Linked DNA regions of Homo sapiens. The protein of the gene in region 1 purifies or fractionates together with the protein of each later gene. This does not show direct contact. Each region holds a gene or a part of one and is shown in the gene's direction. Other genes may lie near its edges. The genes, in order: DPEP1, ABCB6, TBL2, HPCAL1, PIGQ, ENDOD1 and FLCN.

Region 1 (3,500 bases):
GGGCGCCTGTAGTCCCAGCTTCTCTGGAGACTGAGGCAGGAGAATGGCATGAACCCGGGAGGCAGAGCTTGCAGTGAGCTGAGGTTGCGCCACTGCACTCCAGCCTGGGCAATAGAGTGAGACTCCGTCTCAAAAAAAAAAAAAAAAAGTCAGATGTGGGATCAGGCATGGTGGCTCACACCTGTAATCCCAGCACTGTGGGAGGCCGAGGAGGGCACATTATTTTAGGTCAGGAGTTCAAGACCAGCCTGACCAACATGATGAAACCCTGTCTCTACTAAAAATACAAAAAAAATTAGCTGGGTGTGGTGTGCGCCTGTAATCCCAGCTACTCCGGAGGCCGAGGCATGAGAATCAGTTGAGGCAGAGGTTGCCGTGAGCCGAGATTGTGCCACCGCACTCCAGCCTGGGTGACCTACTGAGACTCTGTCTCAGAGAGAGAGAGAGGAAGGAGGGGAGGGGAGAAGAGGGAAAGGAAGGGCAGGGGAACCCAGTCTTGGATATTTCTTCTTTTTTTTTTTTTTTTTTTTTTTTTTTGAAACGGAGTCTTGCTCTGCCACCCAGGCTGGAGTACAGTGTTGCAATCTCGGCTCACTGCAACCTCCGCCTCCCTGGTTCAAGTGATTCTCCTCCAAAAGCCTCCAAGTAGCTGGGATTACGGGCAAGGGCCACCATGCCCAGTAAATTTTTGTATTTTTAGTAGAGAAGGGGTTTCACCATGTTGGTCAGGCTGGTCTCAAACTCCTAACCTCGTGATCCTCCTGCCTTGGCCTCCCAAAGGGTATTTTTGTTTGTTTTTGAGACGGAGTCTCGCTCTTTCGCCCAGGCGGGAGTGCAGTGGTGCAATCTCGGCTCACTGCAAGCTCTGCCTCCCGGGTTCATGCCATTCTCCTGCCTCAGCCTCCCAAGTAGCTGGGACTCCAGGCACCCGCCACCATGCCCGGCTAATTTTTTTTATTTTTGGTAGAGACGGGGTTTCACCATGTTAGCCAGGATGGTCTCGATCTCCTGACCTGGTGATCCACCCGCCTCGGCCTCCCACAGTGCTGGGATTACAGGCGTGAGCCACCACACCCGGCCACAAAAGGTATTTCTTTCTTTCTTTCTTTTCTTTCTTTTTTTTTTTTTTTTGTGAGATAGAGATTTACTCTTGTCGCCCAGGCTGGAGTGCAATGGCGCGATCACAGCTCATGGCATCCTCCACCTCCCGGATTCAAGCGATTCTCCTGCCTCAGCCTCCCGAGTAGCTGGGATTACAGGCATGCACCACCATGCCTGGCTAATTTTTGTATTTTTAGTAGAGACGGGGTTTCACCATGTTGCCCAGGCTGATCTCGAACTCCTGACCTCAGGTGATCCGCCCGCCTCAGCCTCCCACAGTGCTGGGATTACAGGTGTGAGCCACCTTGCCCAGCCCCCAAAGGGTATTTCTTTATAGCAGTGTGAAAATGGACAAATACAGTGGCCTCAAGTTCTCTCCTTAGTGGCACCTGAGGGAGTGTGGTGCTCTTGGAAATGCTCTCCTGTCACTCAGTTTCTGCCTCTGAAGCGACAAGCAGAACATGGATGTTCTCAGAGTCCAGGGCTGTGTAGATAGTATTGGAGCTGAAGGCAAAAGGAAAAATCAGAATATTGGGCCTGTCTTTATTTTAAAGGTTTGTGGGGGAGGGGGGGCGGTTTGTGTTTTGTTTGTTTGTTTTTCTGAGATGGAGTCTTGATCTGTTGCCCAGGCTGAAGTGCAGTGGCATGATCTTGGCTCACAGCAACCTCCGCCTCCCGGGTTCAAGTGATTCTCCTGCCTCAGCCTCCTGAGTAGCTGGGACTACAGGTGCGCACCACCATGCCCAGCTAATTTTTGTCTTTTTAATACAGAGAGGGTTTCACCATATTGGCCAGGCTTGTCTTGAACTCCTGACCTCAAGTGATCCATCCGCTTCGGCCTCCCAAAGTGCTGGGATTATAGGCGTGAATGACTGTGCCCAGCTATTTTAAAGTTTTATACTTTGTTCATTATGGATTTTTTTTACATGAATTCTGATTTTTTTAAAATATTGAATGAAAATACGATTTATCATGACCTGGGCATGGTGGCTCATGCCTGTAATCCCCGCAGTTTGAGAGGCCAAAGCAGGCAGGTTTGCTTGAGGCCAGGAGTTCGAGACCAGCCTGGGAAACATGGGGAAGACCCCATCTCTACAAAAAATACAAAAATTAGCCAGACGTGGTGGTGCACGCCTGTGGTCCCAGCTACTCAGGAGGCTCAGGCAGGAGGGTTGCTTGGGCCCAGGAGGTGCAGGTTGCAGTGAGCCGAGAGGGAGCCACTGTCCTCCAGCTGGGGCGATCCTCCTTCCCTGCCGGGCTCCCCCCACCCCCCCCCGAAGCCTCTGACCAGTTTTCCCTCCTGCTCCTCCCAGCAGGCCTGGTTTAGCCCCAGTGCTCAGCCCACTGTCCCCCAGAACCCCAGACACCACCCAGCCCTGGGATTAAGATTCTTCCGTCAGGGCACCACCTGGGAACTGTGTGCCCAGGAGCCCTCGGGCGACTTGAATGTGCTCTGCTGAGTCCTAGAGAGGCCCCGGTTCTAAGGACGTGTCTAGCTGCTTGGCCTGAAGCTCTGTAGCTGGAGTGTGGGTCCCTGTGACGCTGGAGGGCTGCAGGCCGGGGGTGCGGACCCCTCAGCAACAGGGCAGGCGCCAGGGGCACACCTGGCTGTGCAGCAGCTTCCTGGAACGCCCTAATGTTTATCCCCCATGGCAAGTCACGTAAGATGATTTTTACGTGGAAAGGGGTGCTTTATGAGAATGCACTATTTGAATGACTGTTGTCTTGCTTGCAGATCTAGGCCCCCGGGTCCTGAGGGAGGTGGTAGTAATAACAGTAGCACAGCTAGAGCCAACAGCCACTCACCACTCATCTGGGCCTGCTCTCAGCCTGCTGTCCTTTCATCTGGGCTCTAGCTCCACCCCTGGGTCTGGGATCCCAGCTTCTTACTATGCCTCCGCCTAGCCCAGACAGCAACGCCCAGTCATTGAGTGTCCGGCCTTCCATCCTACCCACCCTGGTGGGGAATGTGCTGGTTACTTATTGAACATGGGAAGCTATAAACAGGAGAGCAGCCACCTGTCATCACTTCCACCCACACCTCTGGTGCCTCTCCTGGCAGGCAGAGTGGCTCCTCACAGCCTGAAGCTCATCCTTCTGCACGGGCCAGCCAGGCCAGCACAGAGGCACCAGGGCAGCAGTGCACACAGGTCCCCGGGGACCCCACCATGTGGAGCGGATGGTGGCTGTGGCCCCTTGTGGCCGTCTGCACTGCAGACTTCTTTCGGGACGAGGCAGAGAGGATCATGAGGGACTCCCCTGTCATTGATGGGTGAGTGCTCACCTGAGCCAGGTGCTTAGGGAACCAGGACTGGGAACTGGGGCTGGGAGAGCGGGGCTGGGGGAGCCGGGGCTGGGGGAGCGGGGCTGGGGGAGCCAGGGCTGGGGGTGCCGGGGCT
Region 2 (3,343 bases), on another chromosome or scaffold:
CCGGAGAAGCAGGGATAGGGGCCCGTGGGAGGAAGAGAACAGACCCCGCCTGAGAAGCTGCCGCTCCCACCTTGGTGTTTTTTAAAGTATAGGATTATTGTATACATGCTCTCCTAATAACTTAGGTAATGCGGGCAGAGGGCAAATCTCTTTCGAGCTGCACTTACTTTTTCAGAGCTTCCCACTCTGTTTAGTATGTTGGGTTCTGCTCTTTTTTTGAGACAGGGTCACGCTCTGTCACCCAGGCTGGAGTACAGTGGCATAATCTCTGCTCACTGCAACCTCTGCCTCCCGGGTTCAAGCAATTCTCCTGCCTCAGCCTCCTGAGTAGCTGGGATTACAGATGTGCACCAGCATGCCTGGCTAATTATTAGATTTTTTGTAGAAACAGGGTTTCACCATGTTGGCCAGGCTGGCCTGGAACTCCTAGCATCATGTGATCTGCCCACCTAGCATTCCAAAGTGCTGGGATTACAGTTGTGAGCCATTGTGCCCAGCTGGGTTCTGCTTTTTTGCATTTTTACATACATATTATATATGCAGACTCACAGAACTAATATGGCATTGTGGAGGTTTTTCCTAAAACAAATGGTATTGTGACATAGCCATCATTCTCAGAGTTGCTTATTAACAGAACATTATGGAGATATATTTTTCTTCCATGCCTGAAGGTCTCCCTCATTCATTGTAATTGATACAGAGAATTCTGTAGTTTGAGCATGGTTGATTTAGCCACCCACCTCTTGAGGGTAGAATTAATTAAGACTGGTTCCAGTCTGTTGCTTGAAAATAAAACACTACCCTGAAATGCCTAGAGGCAGGGTTGCTGGGTCTAAGCCCCCAGACCTTTCTTATTCACTTGACCTGCCCTCCTAGCTACCTGGTGTTCAATGTCATCCCCACGCTGGCCGACATCATCATTGGCATCATCTACTTCAGCATGTTCTTCAACGCCTGGTTTGGCCTCATTGTGTTCCTGTGCATGAGTCTTTACCTCAGTGAGTGCTGCTGGGAGACACCGTCTCCCTGAACTATCCAGGGACTCCCTTGGCCATGAGCTGTGCCCCCACTCAAGTGACCCACCTATGGGAGGCTGTGGATTGGTGGACTTGAATGGGCTCCTAGTGCTCGTCATGTGATGGGCGGGTCTCTTCTGTCAAATCAAACCTTAACCTAGCTGAGGGGCTGGGGAAGGACATTCTTGTCACGTTAAGTCTGAGCCGTGGACACAGGTCAAGGAAGCCTCGTTTGTGTAACAAGATGCAGCTTGCTTTCATTTACCAAAAGCGTTTTCTACACATGAGACTTTGTGCAGGCTGCAGAGGTGCCTCCCTGTGGAATCTGGGTGTCCGGGCTTGAGCATAGGCTTAGTGTGTACATGGCAGGTAGTGGACATTGACATTTGGTCTCTGCTTTTGGGGATGATGTCCTATTCTGCTCCCCATCCTGTCACTCTCCAGCCCTGACCATTGTGGTCACTGAGTGGAGAACCAAGTTTCGTCGTGCTATGAACACACAGGAGAACGCTACCCGGGCACGAGCAGTGGACTCTCTGCTAAACTTCGAGACGGTAACAGAGGGCCCGGTGGCAGTGGTGTGAGGCGTGGAGATGTGGAGGAGTGTAACCAGGACCACTGGGGCTGACAGAGAGCTGGGGGTGTGATGTTTGTGTGTGATGTTTGAACTCAGGAAGGAGGATTGAGAGTTGGGGGGAATGACCCGAGTGCCATGTGCTGTGCCCATGCCAAATAAATTTGGTTTGAATTCATCAGGTGAAGTATTACAACGCCGAGAGTTACGAAGTGGAACGCTATCGAGAGGCCATCATCAAATATCAGGTGAGGATGCTAGTTTGAGGCCTCCGGAGAATAATGCCCTGGCCTGGTAGAATTTTCAGGGCCAAGAGTGATAGTCGAGTGTTGGGGTAGAAGGGGCCTGGGCCCAGGTTTGGACTCACTGATGGCCATTGTGTATAGGACATTCCTCTTCCTGTGTTATTGCCCTCAGGGTTTGGAGTGGAAGTCGAGCGCTTCACTGGTTTTACTAAATCAGACCCAGAACCTGGTGATTGGGCTCGGGCTCCTCGCCGGCTCCCTGCTTTGCGCATACTTTGTCACTGAGCAGAAGCTACAGGTGAGGCAGGATCTTGGATGAGAGAGTGGGGCACAAGGAAAAGGGGGCCTGAGGCCTGTGTCTGGTCACCAGGCTCTTCGGTAGGAAGTGGGCAGGGTGACACAAGAAGAGCGGCCTGCAGGCCCCCCGTGACATGCTCTGCTTCCTTGATTGCCACAGGTTGGGGACTATGTGCTCTTTGGCACCTACATTATCCAGCTGTACATGCCCCTCAATTGGTTTGGCACCTACTACAGGTAATCTGAGCCCTGGCCCTCACCTGTCCAGGGCACATTATTATTTCCTGGCTACTCAGAGAAGTCCTAACCAGCACCTTTTTGCAGGATGATCCAGACCAACTTCATTGACATGGAGAACATGTTTGACTTGCTGAAAGAGGAGACAGAAGTGAGCGAAGGGAGAGGAGTAGGGTTTGGGGAGGGAGGAGCTGTGTGGTGTTTCTCGTGCTTGGAAAACACAAAGCTGAGAACCTCAGCACACATGGGTGGTGCCCTTCCAGGTGAAGGACCTTCCTGGAGCAGGGCCCCTTCGCTTTCAGAAGGGCCGTATTGAGTTTGAGAACGTGCACTTCAGCTATGCCGATGGGTGAGGCCTTCCTTTTGCTTCCTTTGCTTTTCCGTTCATTTGCACACTGCCTTCCTGCTTCTCAGTGCTCTGAATCCCTGCTTTTGGAAAAGAGCCTGGGCAGGGGAGGGGCAGGGCCTACTAGCAGCTCTGGTGATGGAAGGTGCCTGCTGAGCAACCCCACCTTTCCTTGCAGGCGGGAGACTCTGCAGGACGTGTCTTTCACTGTGATGCCTGGACAGACACTTGCCCTGGTGAGAGGAGACCCAGCCACTTGGCCCAGATGCCTCAAGCTTCCCTCATTCAGTGCCCATGGTAGCTTGTGACCCAGGCTGTGGAGTCAGAGAGCCCAGTCACGATAGGCAACCGGATTGAATGGTGCAGCCTCCATGGACACTGGTGACCTCTTGGAGAGGGAACCTCAAAAGCCAGTGGGCCTCGGCCGGCTGCGGTGGCACATGCCTGTAATCCCAGCACTTTGGGAGGCTTAGGTGGCCAGATCACCTAAGGTTAGGAGTTCAAGACCAGCCTGACCAACATGGTGAAACCCTATCTCTACTAAAAATACAAAAATTAGCCGGGCATGGTGGCGGGTGCCTATAATCCCACTACTAGGGAGGCTGAGGCAAGAGAATCGCTTGAACCT
Region 3 (3,500 bases), on another chromosome or scaffold:
GGCTCACGCCTGTAATCCTAGCACTTTGGGAGGCCGAGGCGGGTGGATCACAAGGTCAGGAGATTGAGACCATTCTGGCTAATGTGGTGAAACCCCACATCTACTAAAAATACAAAAAAAAATTAGCCGGGCATGGTGGCGGGCGCCTGTAGTCCCAGCTACTTGGGAGGCTGAGGCAGGAGAATGGCGTGAACCCGGGAGGCAGAGCTTGCAGTGAGCTGAGATCACGCCACTGCACTCCAGCCTGGGTGACAGAGCGAGACTCCATCTGAAAAAAAAAAAAAAAATTAGCTGGATATGGTGGTGCACGCCCATGATCCCAGCTACTTGGAAGGCTGAGGCACAAGAATTGCTTGAACCTGGGAGGCAGAGGCTACAGTGAGCGGAGATCACGCCACTGCACTCCAGCCTGGGCGACAGAGCAAGACTCTGTCTCCAAAAAAAAGAAAGAAAGAAAAGAAAAAAAAAACCAAGGTCCAGAGCAATTCACTAACTTACCCAAAGCAGGGCCGCTAGAGATGGTTGTGCACATTACTCCCTACATAGGGATGTCTGGCCAAGGATCCACACTCCACTGGCCGTGCTGTGTACCCGCCCAGCAGCATCACCCAACCCAGAGAGTGCGCCTTTTCCACTCTACATGAAGGTGCTCTGTGGACTTACTGTAAACAGCCTCCTCAGTAGTCAGTCAGTAGTAGAGACAGAATCCAAACCCAGGTCTGATTCCAAAGCCTCTGTTTTGTTTCTGTTTTCTGTTTGTTTTTTTTTGAGACAGGGTCTTGCTCTGTCACTCAGGATGGAATGCAGTAGTGTTGTGATCATAGCTTACTGCAGCCTCGAACTCCTGGGCTCAAATGATCCAAAGCATTGGGATTACAGGCATGAGCCACCATACCCAGCCAGCCAAAGCCTCTGTTTTTGCCCATATCACACTCATTCTCCTCCAGAAGACAAGGGCCATATCTGGTTAATCTCCTGCTGTTCCACTCAATGCCTGGCTCATCATAGGTGGGCAGTAAATGCTTATCAGTGAGTAACTGGAGAACAACATGGCCCTTCCTTATAGGCCAAAAAGCAAATGGATTTCCACCTGACAAATCTTCGGGATCCAAGAAGCAGAAACAATATCAGCGGATTCGGAAGGAGAAGCCTCAACAACACAACTTCACCCACCGCCTCCTGGCTGCAGCTCTGAAGGTACGTGGGGTACCTGGCACAGCGTGCACCCTGAGACTCAGCCCCACAGGCTTTTCCTCTGGAGTATTCCATGCATGTTACAGGCTCTCCTGCCTCTGATCAGAATCAGCGGGGGTGCTTAATTCTGTCCCCTCTCATCGCAGCCCAATCTCAGCTTGCTGTTAATCCAGGCCACAGGGCCCCATCTCCCCGGCTCCAGGTTTGGCTTCCCCATCTCCCCCAGGAGCTCCTATTGACACTTCCTGCCACCCTTCCCCTAGAGCCACAGCGGGAACATATCTTGCATGGACTTTAGCAGCAATGGCAAATACCTGGCTACCTGTGCAGATGATCGCACCATCCGCATCTGGAGCACCAAGGACTTCCTGCAGCGAGAGCACCGCAGCATGAGAGCCAACGTGGAGCTGGACCACGCCACCCTGGTGCGCTTCAGCCCTGACTGCAGGTGGGACAAGACGGAGCCTCAGGTTTGCCTGCAGAGGCCTAGTCCCAGGCTTTGGCCTTCCCATATCTGCTTTGAGGTAGTGAGGAGGGACCTGGACCCAGGGCCTCCCTTGGGGTGCCAGAAAGAGCATCCACATAGTTTGCGCGCTGCCTGGGGCTCCCTGGAGATCTGGGCTGCTATACAGCAAGGAAACAGGGGGAGGTCTCTTCCTACCTGGAAATACCTTGGCCTGGCTTCCAGATGAGCCTTAGTTTCTAAACCCTAGAGAGAAACTAAAGGAGCCAAAGCTATCAGAATCTTACCTTTTGAGGAGTTTTATGAGATTTGGAACCAGGGGCTTAAGTTTTAAGGCTAGACTGTGGGGCATGAGGAGAGATCTTGACTTCCCCGAGAACCCAGCACAGGACCTGGAACACAGAGCCTCTTTGTCCAGTGAGAGCGTGACTTGTCTGCTGCCTGTCTCTAGAGCCTTCATCGTCTGGCTGGCCAACGGGGACACCCTCCGTGTCTTCAAGATGACCAAGCGGGAGGATGGGGGCTACACCTTCACAGCCACCCCAGAGGACTTCCCTAAAAAGCACAAGGCGCCTGTCATCGACATTGGCATTGCTAACACAGGTAAGAGGCATTCAGAGGGTGGCGCCTGCCCAAAGCATGAAGGAAAGATCCAGTTCTATTTCCTCAATGAGTTAATGCTGCCTGAAAGTTCTGCTCAACCTGAGAGGAACAAGGGGTCCCTGGCTCTGAACAGCCTGGCTCTGTGCTCCCCTGGAGTCCCTGGGCCACACCAGGTCCCTAGGGAAGGTGGGGAAGGGCCACAGTCTTCAGCAGAGTCCTTATCTGTAGTGACCCTTGGCCTGGGAGGAGACATGTATACTTCGGGCAGCAGAGGCCTTGTAAGTGTCTTTGGAGAGTGACAGTTGGTCAGGTCACTGCCCGTGACCCACATCACTCCCTTCCCGCTCAGGGAAGTTTATCATGACTGCCTCCAGTGACACCACTGTCCTCATCTGGAGCCTGAAGGGTCAAGTGCTGTCTACCATCAACACCAACCAGATGAACAACACACACGCTGCTGTATCTCCCTGTGGCAGGTGGGCAAGGAGGGGTATTGGCGTCTGGGACCACGAGAGGCTGGGGCTGGGGAGCAGGCACAGAACAGAGAGCCAGCTTCATCGCGTGGGAAGAGCATACGGGGTGGGGTCAGGAACCCGAGCTTCAAGTCTCAGCTCTCCCCACTTGCAGTAGTGGGATTTCATGCAGGTCGCCCCATGTCCTTAGTCGCTATTTCTTCATCTTCAGTGTTTTTGTTTTTTAGAAAATTAGTCTCACTCTGTCACCCAGGCTGGAGCACAGTGGTGCGATCATAGCTCACTGCAGCCTCAAACTCCTGGGTTGTAGCTATTCTCCCAGCTCAGCCTCCTGAGTAGTCAGGACTATAGGCATGTGCCACTGTACTCAGCTAATTTTTGTTTTTTGTTTGTTTGTTTGTTGAGACGGTTTCACCCTCGCCCAGGCAGGAGTGCAGTGGCGCAATCACAGCTCACTGTAGCCTTGACTTCCCAGGCTCAGACCATCCTCCCACCTTAGCCTCCCGAGTAGCTGGGACTACAGGCGTGCACTACCACACCTGGCTAATTTTTGTATTTTTTGTTGAGATGGGGTCTTACTATGTTGCCCAGGCTGGTCCTGAACTCCTGGCCTCAAGTGATCCTCTTGCCTCGACCTCCCAAAGTGGTAGAATTACAGGCGTGAGCCACTGTGCCAAGCCACCTTTGGGCGGGGATGTTACATATCTTAGAACAAGGCTAGAAGATAAACTGAGGTCACATACATAAAAGAACTTTTTTGTTGTGGT
Region 4 (3,500 bases), on another chromosome or scaffold:
AAAGTAGAAGGATCAAGAATTAAACGAGGTCACTTTCTCTTCCGCCCTTGTTTTGGTAGTAATGATATGCCCTTTTATGGCCTTGCCTGGGCTGGTGTTCAGATTTTCCTGTACGAGTCTTGTCATCCCTTCCTAAGCCATGGAAGCTCCTTCTAGGGCATGAGTGCTGTGTGACACATGTTCACACAGTGTTGCCCCAGTACCTACCTAGTCCACAACTGAACAGGTAGAGATGGTTCAAGCAATGTGTGTGTGTAGAGAGGTCTCCTGGTAAATAGAAGGGGCTGGGGGAGGGCGTTGAATGCAGTGGTGCTGTGGCCTTGGGTGGCTTGGTGCATTTCTGATGCATTTCTCACCTTGGATCATTTTCACTCTTTGAGGAAGAGAGCAGAGGATGAGATGCCATTTGACAGATGCACAAACCAAGACACAGAAATTGTATACCCATTGTACGCCAGGTAGATCACAAATGACCGTTCTCTCCCATGGTTGTAGAGAACTCTCATGGTGGACAGAAACCATGAAAGAAATCATGGTGGAAAGAACCAAGACATTCTTGAATCGGAGTATTAGAACCTCATTTGCAAAATACCTTGGAAAGATCAGGGACACTGGGGTTTGAATTGTAGTCTTTGCTCTGTTGTTTATTGGCTGGTGATGGTCTCTGAATCTGTTTGCTCAGGTGCAGAAAGGGGTTTTAGGCTGAGCTCAGATATTGACAGGAACTACAATTCAAACCCAGGTCTGCAGATGTGGCAGACTGGGTTTGAACTGTAGTCTTTGCTCTGTTTACTGGCTGGTGATGTTCTCTGAGTCTGTTTGGTCATGTGCAGAAAGGGGTTCTAGGCGCAGCTCAGACGTAGATGGGGACGCAGATGTGAGTACCTAGGTGAGTCTGGCTGGTCACGTGTGGAATAAGTGGTGGTGGCTGCCATTACTCTTTAAGCATTCTTGGATCTAGTGCCTCCTCTGCCACTGAGTACAGAATTCCTTTTCAAATTCGGGCTTATGAGGCATGTTTTGATCCAGGCTGTCGTAGCAAGGGATTTGATGCTGGAGTCTGTGACTGCTGTGCGTGTGGAGGCTTCCGGAAGGCAGCCAGTGCTGGTTACTGCTTGGAGTTTGGGGAGCTGCCATTTTGGATTGTCCTAGCCTCATGCCTTCTGAGAAGCATCTGTCAGGGTCCCTGATGCACCTACAGAGACCCTGAGCTTGGTGGTGGGGGTTGCACAGAGAGAGCTGCAGGTTGTTCCTCAGGCATAACGAGGCCCGGAGCTGGTGGTCCCCTCCCTCTGTGAGTGTGTGCAGAGCATGGATCGGGTCTGGGAGTGTTCGTGCTGGCAGGCCGGAGGAGGACTGCTGGGCACACTTGCAGAATTGCGGTTCTGTACAGCAGTGTGTATCGACTGCAGCGCTCTTTTTCTCTAGCAGCAAAATGCTCAGCTCTCTGCCTTCTTTCTGTGCATTTAACAGACGTTTCCAGAAAGCAGAATTGATGACAGCCCCAACTCCTCCCTTTCACTCCCATCTTTTCTATTTGCTGCCCTGTAATCAATTTTTGGAGAGAAGTGAGAACCTCTCGAAATCGATCACCTATGTTGAAAAAAAATCATTTTTAACATCATGCAGTTTTCCGTATTTACTGTGTGTGGCTGGAGACACTCCTGGCAGAATGAGTGTGGGATGTAGGAGGTCCAGAAAAGCCCCCAGCTTCAGGGGCTGAGATAGGGCCATGGGTGGCAGAACTGGTTGTCCCCCCGCCCCCCAATCCCTCAGCAGTGGTTGAGGTGTGCTTTATTAGAAACTCTTCAGTCATGCAGTTTGGAGCCCGTGCTGGTGATGCAGCCTGGATGCCTGGCAGGGGCTTAGCCTCCAGGGGTGGGACATGAGATGTGGCTGCCGTGGCTTCTCTGTGTCTTTCTTCCCAGCGAGTAAAGGTAGACGCAGGGCTCTGGCAGGTGCTAAGGCCCTGCTTGCCTTCATGCTGGAATGCTGGCAGGTACAATTTATTCTTATTTCTTAGGAGGTGCTTTCCCCTCTTCTTTCTGAAGACATCCAGGGATAAAGAATTGCTGCTTTTATGAGCACATGTTCTTGGTGATATGCTGTTACCTTATCTAAAAACAATACGGCCTGGCTGATTATTCTCAGAGCTCATTGTAAGGTGAAAGGTTATGCATTTGAGAATTATTTTCACAGTGTGGATGGGAGTGGGGGGAGAAGATGTAGAGCACAGGTAAGGAATTCCAGGTTTTGGGGCCAGGGATCGCCAAGCAGTGTAAAGGGCTCACTGTGGCCTGTAGCTCCTTCCCCCTGTGGTTTGTGCTGGGCCAGTTGCTGGCTCCCCAAAACCATTATCACCATTATCATTATCACTATCATATCCATCACCTCACCATCATTATCACTGACATCATCACTTTTCTCCATCACCATCATCATCATCATCACTATCATCCCCATCCCCATCATCATCATTACCATCATCATTGCTGTCGCTATCATCATCATCATTCCATTCATCACCATTCATCATCACTGTCATCATCACCATCATCATCACTGTCATCACCATCACCACCACCATCATCACCATCGCCATCATCACTGTTATCGTCACCATTCATCATCACTGTCATCATCATCGTCATCACTATCATCCCCACCATCACCACCATCATTATCACCATTCTCCATCACCATCATCACTATCATCCTCACCATCATCACCATTCTCCATCACCATCATCATCATCACTATCATCCCCACCATCATCACCATCACCATCATCATCACTGTCATCATCAACATCCATCATCACTGTCATCACCATCATCATCACTATCATTACCATCACCATCACCACCATTATCACTGTCATCATCACCTTTCTCCATCACCATCATCATCATCATCATATCATCATCATCATCATCATATCATCCTCATCCCCATCATCATCACCATCACCACCGTCATTGCTGTCATCATCACCATTCACCATCAATGTCGTCATCACCATCATCATCACTATCATCATTATCACCATCATCACCATCACCATCATCATTACTGTCATCATCACCATTCACCGTCACTATCATCACTGTCATTATCACCATCATCATCACCACCACCATCACCATCATCACTGTCATCCCCATCCTCATCATCATCACCATCACTGTCATCATCATCACCATCACCACCATTGCCATCACCATCACCATCATTATCACTGTCATCATCACCTTTCTCCATCACCATCATCATCATCATCATCACTATCATCCCCATCCCCATCATCATCACCATCACCACCATCATTGCTGTCATCACCATTCACCATCACTGTCATCATCACCATCATCGTCATTATCATCATTGTCACCATCGTCACCATCACCGTCATCATCACCATTCATCATCACTGTCATCACTGTCATTATCACCATCATCATCACCACCACCACCATCACCATCACTATCATCGTCATCA
Region 5 (3,500 bases), about 89 Mb from region 1:
TCTGAAGGGGCTGTGTGCAGGAGCCAGCCGGGCTGAGGCTCTGGGGAGCCCGCCTCTCCCTGTGGGCCCAGCGTCCTGGTATCTCCCTTGTGGTCCCTGAGATCAGCGTTGCCCTCCTGGCTCTCTGGGGCCCTCTGCAGAGCCAGGGTCATGAAACCTTTCCTGTCCAGGGAGGCCCATGTGCAGCCCAGCTGGGACTTCCTGCCCTGCCCCTGTGCTGATTCTGTAACTCCTGTGCTGAGAGCCAGAGGCACAGCTTGTCTCCCATCTCCCACCTTCCCTGCATGGTCTGTGCCCCGTTTCCAGCCGGGTGCAGCCCCCTCCTCTGCAGATCTAGTGCATTTCCATGCTGCCTCTGGGCCTTCAGCTTCTCTGTCTTCCTCCCTCAGCACCAAAGCCCCGTCTCTTCCATTAGGAGCTTGTCTTCCTGCTGGGGGTGGTACCTGACTCTTTGGCCCACCCTCGGGCCTCTGTGGAGGCCTCCTTGAGGCCTGACTGGGTGGGTCTTGTGTGGGCTGCAGGTGTGCACTGGGCCTGCTTGTGGCCAGGCCAGGCCTCTGGGGGCAGCATCAGGCACGTCTGTGTGGCTGTGGGGGTGCAGGGAGCTCCAGCCCAGAAGGAAGGAGGGGCGGGGCTGGGGAAGGGGCTCGGCAGCTTTGCCTGTGGTCGTCCGCACCTGCCACCGGCCTACTTTGTCCTAGACCTCCCTTTTGCAAAAGTGCTCAGAAATATAAATATTTAATTTAAAAATGAAAGTCTCTTCCTGCTGCCAAGCTCTTATCCTTTAAATATTAAATAAGCTCTATTTATAAAGAATGTTCTTTTCTCAGCCGGGGGTGGTGGCTCATGCCTGTAATCCCAGCACTTTGGGAGGCCAAGGCGGGCGGATCATGAGGTCAGGAGATCGAGACCATCCTGGCTAACACAGTGAAATCCCGTCTCTACTAAAAATACAAAAAATTAGCCAGGTATGGTGGTGGGCACCTGTAGTCCCAGCTAATTGGGAGGCTGAGGCAAGAGAATGGCGTGAACCCGGGAGGCAGAGCTTGCAGTGAGCCGAGATCTCACCACTGCACTCCAGCCTGGGCGACAAAACAAGACTCCGTCTCAGAAAAAAAAAAAAAAAAAAGTGTTCTTTTCTCCTTCTTGCCAGTCCTGCTGTGGCTGAGGCCTTGGCCCAGGCTTGGAAGGGGCCTGCGCAATGGGCAAGTGGGGGCCAAGGTGTCACTCACTGTCTCCTTAGTGGGGAGGCTGAGGCTCCCTTGGGGTCTGCCCGCTGGGGCACAGCCTCTGGATGCTGAGTTTCTTCCTGGGCGGCCAAGACCCTGCTTCCCTGTTTGCTCTTGGGGGTGCCTGTGCCCTCAACTTGACGCCATCCTCCCTCTGGGGACCTGTCCTCCTGCCTGGTCGCTGTGGCCCTGATGGGCTTGGCACTGTCTCGCTCACCTGTGGTCATCCCGGGCAGCCCCCAGCCTCTGCGATGGGGTGGGGCCTCTGGAGGGGACTGTGTCAGCTGTGGGCTTCCCTGCAGGGCTGGAGCCGAATCAGGGTCTGCCAGGCCTCAGTGCGTCCACGTGTTTGGGGCCGAGGGCTCCAGTGGGTCCTGTGGCCGAGGTAGTGAGAGGGGAGGAAGATGGTAGAGGTGGGTGCAGGCAGGGGGCCACGCGGATGCCCTGTGGGCCCGGCCATGTCACCCAGGCCTGCAGAGAGAGGCCTCCAGACCAGCCTCCTCAGACCCCAATCCCGGAGCCATCTGTGAAGGGGAGCCCGTGTGCTGTCCACGCTAGGACGCGGTAGACCCTGGAGGAGGGAAGGCTGGCCAAGGTGGGAGCCCATCACGAAAGAGCCTGGGGAGATGCAGGTGCTGAGCCTGGCTGCCCCCGCCCCAGCGTGGCCCCTGTGTCCCTGCAGCACGTGGCCGAGGAGCTCCAGCATCTGCTGCAGTGGCTGATGGGTGCTCCCGCCGGGCTCAAGATGAACCGTGCACTGGACCAGGTGCTGGGCCGCTTCTTCCTCTACCACATCCACCTGTGGATCAGTGAGTGCAGGGCAGGCGGGGGCCCCAGGGACCCCAGAGCTTGCTGAAGAGGGTAGGGACCCAGCCAGACCCCGCCCCCTGTGCCCCCAACTCTGCTCCCCAGCGTCCTGTGTGTGTGAGGCCTGCTGTGCTCAGCTGAGGGCTGGGGCCTGGGCACCTCCCGAGGGCTGACCCCACCCTGCCAGGCTACACGCACCTCATGTCCTGTGTGTGTGAGGGTTGTGCTGGGCCGAGGGCTGGGGTCTGAGCGCCTCCTGAGGGCCTACCCCACCCTGCCAGGCTACATCCACCTCATGTCCCCCTTCGTGGAGCACATCCTTTGGCACGTGGGCCTCTCGGCCTGCCTGGGCCTGACGGTGGCCCTGTCCCTCCTCTCGGACATTATCGCCCTCCTCACCTTCCACATCTACTGCTTTTACGTCTATGGAGCCAGGTGGGCGTGGGCTTCCCCCTCCCCACCGCCCCCTGGGAGGTGCAGAGGCTCCGGCTGGGCGGGCGTTCGAGTGGGGCGGGGGCGGGGCGGGGCGGGGCGGGGCCGGGCCCGACAGCACTGCGTCCTGTAGGCTGTACTGCCTGAAGATCCATGGCCTGTCCTCACTGTGGCGTCTGTTCCGGGGGAAGAAGTGGAACGTTCTGCGCCAGCGCGTGGACTCCTGTTCCTATGACCTGGACCAGGTATGGGGCAGGGTTCGTGGCTGGAGGGGCTGACTGCCTCCGGCCTGTGCCCGCTGGGCCAGCGCGGTGCTTGGGCACCACAAGGGGGCAGCCTGCTCCCGTCCTGCAGCTGAGGCCGCGCACAGGCCCTGGGAATAGATAAGTCTGCGGTGTGGGCTGCACGTGGGGCTCTGAAGCAGCGCAGAGCTTCCCTGGGCCACAGAGAAGAGACAGACACACAGCCCCGAAGGTGGTGCAGGCACAGGCCCTAGAGGTGCCCCGGGCCCAGAGACTAGAGATGCCCCGGGCCCGGAGACTAGAGGTGCCCCGGGCCCGGAGACTAGAGGTGCCCCGGGCCCGGAGACTAGAGGTGCCCCGGGCCCGGAGACTAGAGGTGCCCCGGGCCCGGAGACTTGAGGTGCCCCGGGCCCGGAGACTAGAGGTGCCCCGGGCCCGGAGACTAGAGGTGCCCCGGGCCCGGAGACTAGAGGTGCCCCGGGCCCGGAGACTAGAGGTGCCCCGGGCCCGGAGACTTGAGGTGCCCCGGGCCCGGAGACTAGAGGTGCCCCGGGCCCGGAGACTTGAGGTGCCCCGGGCCCGGAGACTAGAGGTGCCCCGGGCCCGGAGACTAGAGGTGCCCCGGGCCCGGAGACTTGAGGTGCCCCGGGCCCGGAGACTAGAGGTGCCCGGGCTCGGAGACTAGAGTTGCCCGGGCCCGTCTGCTGCTCACACTTGCCGCAGCCGCTGGATGCTGCCATGCAGAGCATGTTCTTGGTGACTGTGTGGCCACGCACCGTCTTGGGTGGTC
Region 6 (2,650 bases), on another chromosome or scaffold:
GCCTCCCCGGTTCAAGTGATTCTCCTGCCTCAGCCTCCCATGTAGCTGGGATTACAGGCACCCATCACCACATCTAGCTAATTTTTGTATTTTTAGTAGAGATAGGATTTCAGCATGTTGGCCAGGCTGGTCTTGAACTCCTGACCTCAGATGATCCACCCGCCTCAGCCTCCCAAAGTGCTAGGATTATAGGCGTGAGCCACCGCACCTGGCCCCAGACTACAACAGATTTTAAAAAGAACATCACGATGGTGGGTGTGAGTGTGAGTGAAGGGGTGTTACTGTAGAGCAGGGTGGGATAAACACAGGTAATAGACTAGGAAACAGCCTATCTGAAAGATGCTTTGAAACACCAGGATTTTGGTATATCAGAATGAAGTGTCCATGTGCCAGAGAACCAAGTCCTTCCAAACTCAAGCGTTTGAAGTAATAGACCAGTGGGGACTTCTCCAGAGTCTGGGCAGGATGATTCTAGTGCTGCCTCTGTGCTGTAAGCAGGGATGCATCTCACCACTTGTTTTCTTCTTGCAGATCGATGACCCCAACAGCAACCTTGAGGAGGCGATTAATGAGGCAGAGGCCATCACCTCTGTGAACAGCCTGGGAAGCAAGCAAGCCTTGAATACAGATTACCTTGATTCTGATTACCAAAGAGGACAGCTTTACCCATTCTCCCTTAGCAGTGATGTCCAGGTGGCCACATTTACTCTCACAAATTCAGCCCCAATGACTCAGTCCTTCCAGGAACGGTGGTATGTGAATCTCCACAGCCTAATGGACCGGGCTTTGACCCCACAGTGTGGCAGTGGGGAAGACCTATATATCCTCACAGGCACAGTGCCCTCAGACTACAGAGTTAAAGACAAAGTGGCAGTCCCTGAGTTTGTTTGGCTGGCAGCCTGTTGTGCTGTCCCTGGAGGAGGCTGGGCCATGGGCTTTGTCAAGCACACCCGGGACAGTGACATCATAGAAGATGTGATGGTAAAAGATCTTCAGAAACTGCTTCCATTTAACCCTCAGCTGTTTCAGAACAACTGTGGTGAAACTGAGCAAGACACAGAGAAAATGAAAAAAATCCTGGAAGTGGTTAACCAAATCCAGGATGAAGAACGAATGGTACAATCTCAAAAGAGTTCTAGTCCCCTTTCTAGCACCAGGAGCAAGAGGTCTACTCTGTTGCCTCCAGAGGCATCTGAGGGAAGTAGTAGCTTTTTGGGAAAACTCATGGGCTTCATTGCTACCCCATTCATCAAGCTTTTTCAATTAATTTATTACCTTGTGGTAGCAATCCTGAAGAACATTGTCTATTTCCTGTGGTGTGTTACCAAGCAGGTGATTAATGGCATAGAAAGTTGCCTTTACCGCCTGGGCTCAGCCACCATCTCATACTTCATGGCCATTGGGGAAGAGTTGGTGAGCATTCCCTGGAAGGTGCTCAAGGTCGTGGCCAAAGTCATCAGGGCTCTCCTCCGGATCCTTTGTTGTCTGCTGAAGGCCATTTGCCGAGTTCTGAGCATCCCTGTCCGTGTCCTTGTGGATGTGGCCACTTTCCCTGTGTACACCATGGGCGCTATTCCAATTGTTTGCAAGGACATTGCACTGGGCCTTGGTGGCACTGTCTCACTGCTCTTTGACACTGCTTTTGGTACCCTGGGTGGCCTATTTCAGGTGGTTTTTAGTGTCTGCAAGCGGATTGGCTACAAGGTTACTTTTGACAATTCTGGGGAGTTATAAACTCAAAAAACTAATAGTATCCAGTCACAGTGAATTTGAAAGCTGGAATAGTTTGTCTTTACAATGGGTTTCTGTTCACTGTCAGTTATCATTATATTTTGGCCTTTGGTGGGGATGTCTGCTTGTTTTTGCAAAAGAAGATGGCAGAATTTAGACTTGACAGAGGAGAAATGCTCAGGGTGAGATTAGGTGTAGTAATCTGCTGTTTACCTCCAGTTATATGTGCAAACTCCCAAGCCACTAATAACTTCAGTTATGCACTCTAACACAGACGACCACCTGAAATGCACTGGTATTTATTTCTGATAATTAAAAATTACAGGGGAGGGAAGAACTAGAAAAAGAACAACTTTAGACCAAAGGTGTCTGAGAAAAGGAGAAAGGGAGCTTGTTCTTCCCATTGCTCTTTGTGATTTAAGGCAAAACAGATTAAAAAAAAAATCTGCAGCCAATTTCTTGGCATTTGCTTCTCTTTCTCCTCAACTCGACTGACCTTGGTGGAATGCAGATAATGCCTCTTTGTTGAAATAACTTTGTGGGAATGTACAATTTTCTATATCTCTTAGCTTTCCGTGGTTCTCAAGGATATGTACAGTTTTCATTTTCCTCCAAAGTTGAATTTTGCTACATTTTTCTTTTAGGTAATGATAAGCATTTTTTAAAAAATCATTTTTAGGTAATGGTAAGCATTTTATGCCAAATGTGGCATAACAGAGTTTGAATTGAAGGGCAAAGTTTTCTTTTCTTTTTTTTTTGGGCCCCTTGAATGGTATAATACAGTCCTCTCCGGTGGAAAGAAGAGAAGAGAAGGTGGACAGCCCTGCTCTTAGTAGGTGCTGCAGATCCAAGGACATCTTTTGTCCAGCTTGGATTAACTTGACGTGTATCCCTGCCTGACAAGGTTGAACTGAAAGAT
Region 7 (3,500 bases), on another chromosome or scaffold:
CAGACCCCTGGTGTCTTTGTTTCCTCTGGCCTTCATCTCAGGGATGTCTGTTAATCCCATTGAGTTGCACCACCGAATGTAGGCCTCCAGCTGTGGAGATGCAGCTCAGGCCAGGCCAGGCCAGGTCGTGCTCTGGTAACAGCCTCGGATCTCAGCACCTTCAAGCCATAGGGCCTGTTTCTTACTCATGGTGTGTGCATTGCAGGAGAGTGGGGCTCTGCTTGCTGTGGTCGTCCTGGCAGGCAGAGCGGCAGCCATATGAAAATGCTTCCCCTAGGCTGGGCGCAGTGGCTCACGCCTGTAATCCCAGCACTTTGGGAGGCCAAGGCGGGCAGATCACCTGAGGTCGGGAGTTTGAGACCAGCTTGACCAACATGGAGAAACCCCGTCTCTTCCAGAAATACAAAATTAGCTGGGCATGGTGGTGCATGCCTGTAATCCCAGCTACTTGGGAGGCTGAGGCAGGAGAAACGCTTGAACCCATGAGGCAGAGGTTGTAGTGAGCCGAGATCACACCATTGCACTCCAGCCTGGGCGACAGAGTGAGACTCCATCTCAAAAAAAAAAAGAAAGGAAAAAATGTTGCTCCTTCTGCCCTCCAGAAGCACAGATGGTGCTGAGGGCCTTGTTTGTCTCAGCTCATTGACCAGAGCCAGTCACGTGTGCCTTAGCCAAGTAGTGCACCCAGAAGGGGAGGTGGAGACAGGTGGGGAGCAGCGCAGATGGCCACTCACGAGAATCCCCCTGGGTGCCTTGGGTCACTCATTAGGAAGGGGACAGGAGAAGCTCAACCGATTTCTGTTCTCGGATAGCTCCTGATGTAGCCGGGGCAGAGCTATGCTGTTGGGAATGATTGGACTGGTGGCACTTTGTGTGCTCTGCATGGAGAGAGTATAGTGGGACTGATCCTCCAGGAGTCAGGTCCTGGAGTTGGCTGTGAACGAGTAGGGGTCCGAGCTGCTGGCAGCTTTGGCTTAAAGAGGCCATCCCTTCCCTTTGCATTTCAGGTGTTTGAGGCAGAGCAGTTTGGATGCCCACAGCGTGCTCAGAGGATGAACACAGCCTTCACGCCATTCCTACACCAGAGGAACGGCAACGCCGCCCGCTCGCTGACATCGCTGACAAGTGATGACAACCTGTGGGCGTGCCTGCACACCTCCTTTGCCTGGTAACGGGCGTCTCTGCTTTTGGCATATCTGTTAGGATAGAGCAGTCACGATACATTGGTTGGCTTGTCCATGGATTTGGGAGAACAGTCCTTAGCCGTGTTTGCTTGCTGCCTCTGTGAGGAGCACTGGCCTGTGGGCACTTGTCAGTGAGCACAGATCTGGGCTGGGAGTCCTTGTTCTGTAGGCCTCTTCCCCTGAGTGTGCTGAAAACATATTGATGTGGAACTCACTTCTTCCTGGGTTCAAGTGATTCTCCTGCCCCAGCCTCCCAAGTAGCTGGGATTACAGGCGCCTGTCACCACACCCAGCTAATTTTTTTATTTTTGGTAGAGACGGGGTTTCACCATGTTGGCCAGGCTGTTCTCAAACTCCTGACCTCATGTGATCCACCTGCCTCAGCCTCCCAGAGTGCTGGGATTACAGGTGTGAGCCACCGCGCCCAGCCTTTTTTTTTTTTTTTAAAGCAAATCTGAGTCGTATCATTCCAGCCATAAATATAATCACAATACTGTGATCATGTCCGACAAAACGGACAGACTCCTGAGTGTTCTCCAGGCTGCAAGCCCTTGTGCAGTTTACCTTTTGTCTCACAAGTGACTGCATTGGCATCGGAGCAGCGCCCCAAGTCTCTCTGGTTTAGAACAGCTCCCCCTTGCATCCCCTCCCCTCCAAGTTCCTCCCATCCATCTATTGAAGGACCTTGGTCGTTGACTTGTGGAACTGCCTGCATGCGGGATCTGGCTGGTTGTGCCCTGCTGGTGTTCTTTTATACCCATTTTTTCTTTAAACTGGTAGGATCAGGGGCTGGGTGAGCGTCAGGTTTGCTTTTTCCTTTGGCGAGAACGCTCATAGCTGGTGCTGTGTTCTCCAGGCTCCTGAAGGCGTGTGGCAGCCGGCTGACCGAGAAGCTCCTGGAAGGTGCTCCGACCGAGGATACCTTGGTCCAGATGGAGAAGCTCGCTGGTGAGGCAGGGGTGCTGTTGCCGGGGCCTTGGCCCGGATGGCCGTGGGGCGGTACCAGCTGTCTGCTCTCCTGGCAGGAATCGCTGAGGGAGGGAAACGCGGCTCTGAATCAGCCCAGAACGAGCCTTCGGGAAGCTCACCCTCCGATCTCGGTGTGATTGTTGTGATTGTTGTGATTTCCTGTCTCGTTTGCCTTGACCGCCATGTGAAAGAATCTGTTCCCCAGCTAGGTGGGGAAAATTCACAGGTGGGCTGTCTGTAGAGAGAACTGGCTGATTAAAGGCTTCTCGTCCCGATTTTGTGATAGCCAAGTGCTTGGCCTGGTCGACGGTCTTTGCTCCTTTACAAATAAAGTGTTCTGTTTCAGTTCGTCCCAAGTTTTCCATGAAGGGCAGTGGTTCCCTGACCTCCCAGGTGCCTGGGCTTCCCCAGGTTCCTGATCTGGGGCTTGGGGCCCTGTGTTTGGGGATCGTGGCACTGTGTGCACCAGCCTGGAAGCACTGGGCCAGTCTTGGCCAAGCTTTCCATCAGGGATGATTTGATCTTGGTGCTACAGGTCTGTGGTACGACCATTGTTCCACACCACATGTCATTAATAATGCTTCCCATGCTTCTGCTTGCAAATGACCAGCCTTCCAAACAGCCAGAGCTGTTTCGAGGTGTTTCTGCAGGCAGGTGCAGGCGTGCCCTCAAATAAGCTTTGCCAATGGAGTCTCAGCAAGAGCAAAACCTGGTCAGGAAAGACAAAGCCTGGGAATCCACCCCCATGCCCTGCAGGTTGGCTGGCCCTGGAGCCATTTATTATAGTGCTAATCATGTTTCTAGGCAGGTGCAGATGGCAAGGGCAGTGTCTTGGTGAGCTTTTTAGCACGAAGAGCCAGGTCTGTCGAAGCCTTTGTGAGAGCTGGAAACGCAGGTGTGCTGGGCATGCGCAGTATGGGGTTTCGGGCTCAGGGCTTGCCCTTTGGCATCAGACAGACCTGGCTTCGCATCCTGGATTTGCTTCTGACGTGCACCCTTCCCTTTGGGTCTCGTGATGTGAAATGGAGATGTTGTCATTTGTGAGGGCTCCATGAAGTTTCGTTGAAATGACAAATACTAATTTCTTCATCTGTGAAATGGAGATAATAGTGCTGACCTCAGAACAGCTGAGAGGACTAAATGAAATGATGTTGGATGTAGCCATAAAGAACGAAGTCAGGCACTGGTGCACGCCTGGAATCCCAGCTCTTGGGAGACCGAGACAGGTGGATTGCTTGAGCTCAGGAGTTTGAGACCAGCCTGAGCAACATAGGGAGGTCCAGTCTCTACAAAAAATATGAAAAGTAGCTGGGCGTGGTGGCGCATGCCTGTAGTCCCACTACTTGG

What was found.
Region 2: the proteins of DPEP1 (region 1) and ABCB6 purify together in Homo sapiens (affinity purification with mass spectrometry; 2 studies listed by BioGRID and IntAct, with this or other methods). This does not show direct contact.
Region 3: the proteins of DPEP1 (region 1) and TBL2 purify together in Homo sapiens (affinity purification with mass spectrometry; 2 studies listed by BioGRID and IntAct, with this or other methods). This does not show direct contact.
Region 4: the proteins of DPEP1 (region 1) and HPCAL1 purify together in Homo sapiens (affinity purification with mass spectrometry; 2 studies listed by BioGRID and IntAct, with this or other methods). This does not show direct contact.
Region 5: the proteins of DPEP1 (region 1) and PIGQ purify together in Homo sapiens (affinity purification with mass spectrometry; 2 studies listed by BioGRID and IntAct, with this or other methods). This does not show direct contact.
Region 6: the proteins of DPEP1 (region 1) and ENDOD1 purify together in Homo sapiens (affinity purification with mass spectrometry; 2 studies listed by BioGRID and IntAct, with this or other methods). This does not show direct contact.
Region 7: the proteins of DPEP1 (region 1) and FLCN purify together in Homo sapiens (affinity purification with mass spectrometry; 2 studies listed by BioGRID and IntAct, with this or other methods). This does not show direct contact.

The regions. Positions count from the first base shown.
Region 1 is NC_000016.10:89,627,142-89,630,641, forward strand, and holds part of DPEP1 (dipeptidase 1 isoform a precursor), read left to right. Parts: intron 1-1,813; exon of another isoform or gene 1,814-1,828; intron 1,829-3,128; exon of another isoform or gene 3,129-3,163; 5' UTR 3,164-3,269; coding exon 3,270-3,373; intron 3,374-3,500. UniProt on the Homo sapiens protein: Hydrolyzes a wide range of dipeptides including the conversion of leukotriene D4 to leukotriene E4. Hydrolyzes cystinyl-bis-glycine (cys-bis-gly) formed during glutathione degradation.
Region 2 is NC_000002.12:219,212,616-219,215,958, reverse strand, and holds part of ABCB6 (ATP-binding cassette sub-family B member 6), read left to right. Parts: intron 1-876; coding exon 877-998; intron 999-1,460; coding exon 1,461-1,570; intron 1,571-1,772; coding exon 1,773-1,838; intron 1,839-2,007; coding exon 2,008-2,133; intron 2,134-2,292; coding exon 2,293-2,369; intron 2,370-2,456; coding exon 2,457-2,520; intron 2,521-2,632; coding exon 2,633-2,718; intron 2,719-2,893; coding exon 2,894-2,951; intron 2,952-3,343. UniProt on the Homo sapiens protein: ATP-dependent transporter that catalyzes the transport of a broad-spectrum of porphyrins from the cytoplasm to the extracellular space through the plasma membrane or into the vesicle lumen.
Region 3 is NC_000007.14:73,572,080-73,575,579, reverse strand, and holds part of TBL2 (transducin beta-like protein 2), read left to right. Parts: intron 1-1,066; coding exon 1,067-1,197; intron 1,198-1,457; coding exon 1,458-1,642; intron 1,643-2,108; coding exon 2,109-2,260; intron 2,261-2,609; coding exon 2,610-2,736; intron 2,737-3,500.
Region 4 is NC_000002.12:10,309,404-10,312,903, forward strand, and holds part of HPCAL1 (hippocalcin-like protein 1), read left to right. Parts: intron 1-2,299; exon of another isoform or gene 2,300-3,500. UniProt on the Homo sapiens protein: May be involved in the calcium-dependent regulation of rhodopsin phosphorylation.
Region 5 is NC_000016.10:576,468-579,967, forward strand, and holds part of PIGQ (phosphatidylinositol N-acetylglucosaminyltransferase subunit Q), read left to right. Parts: intron 1-1,911; coding exon 1,912-2,038; intron 2,039-2,317; coding exon 2,318-2,471; intron 2,472-2,601; coding exon 2,602-2,713; intron 2,714-3,500. UniProt on the Homo sapiens protein: Part of the glycosylphosphatidylinositol-N-acetylglucosaminyltransferase (GPI-GnT) complex that catalyzes the transfer of N-acetylglucosamine from UDP-N-acetylglucosamine to phosphatidylinositol and participates in the first step of GPI biosynthesis.
Region 6 is NC_000011.10:95,127,846-95,130,495, forward strand, and holds part of ENDOD1 (endonuclease domain-containing 1 protein precursor), read left to right. Parts: intron 1-531; coding exon 532-1,734; 3' UTR 1,735-2,650. UniProt on the Homo sapiens protein: May act as a DNase and a RNase. Plays a role in the modulation of innate immune signaling through the cGAS-STING pathway by interacting with RNF26.
Region 7 is NC_000017.11:17,220,169-17,223,668, reverse strand, and holds part of FLCN (folliculin), read left to right. Parts: intron 1-1,007; coding exon 1,008-1,168; intron 1,169-2,040; coding exon 2,041-2,132; coding exon of another isoform or gene 2,133-2,290; exon of another isoform or gene 2,291-3,500. UniProt on the Homo sapiens protein: Multi-functional protein, involved in both the cellular response to amino acid availability and in the regulation of glycolysis.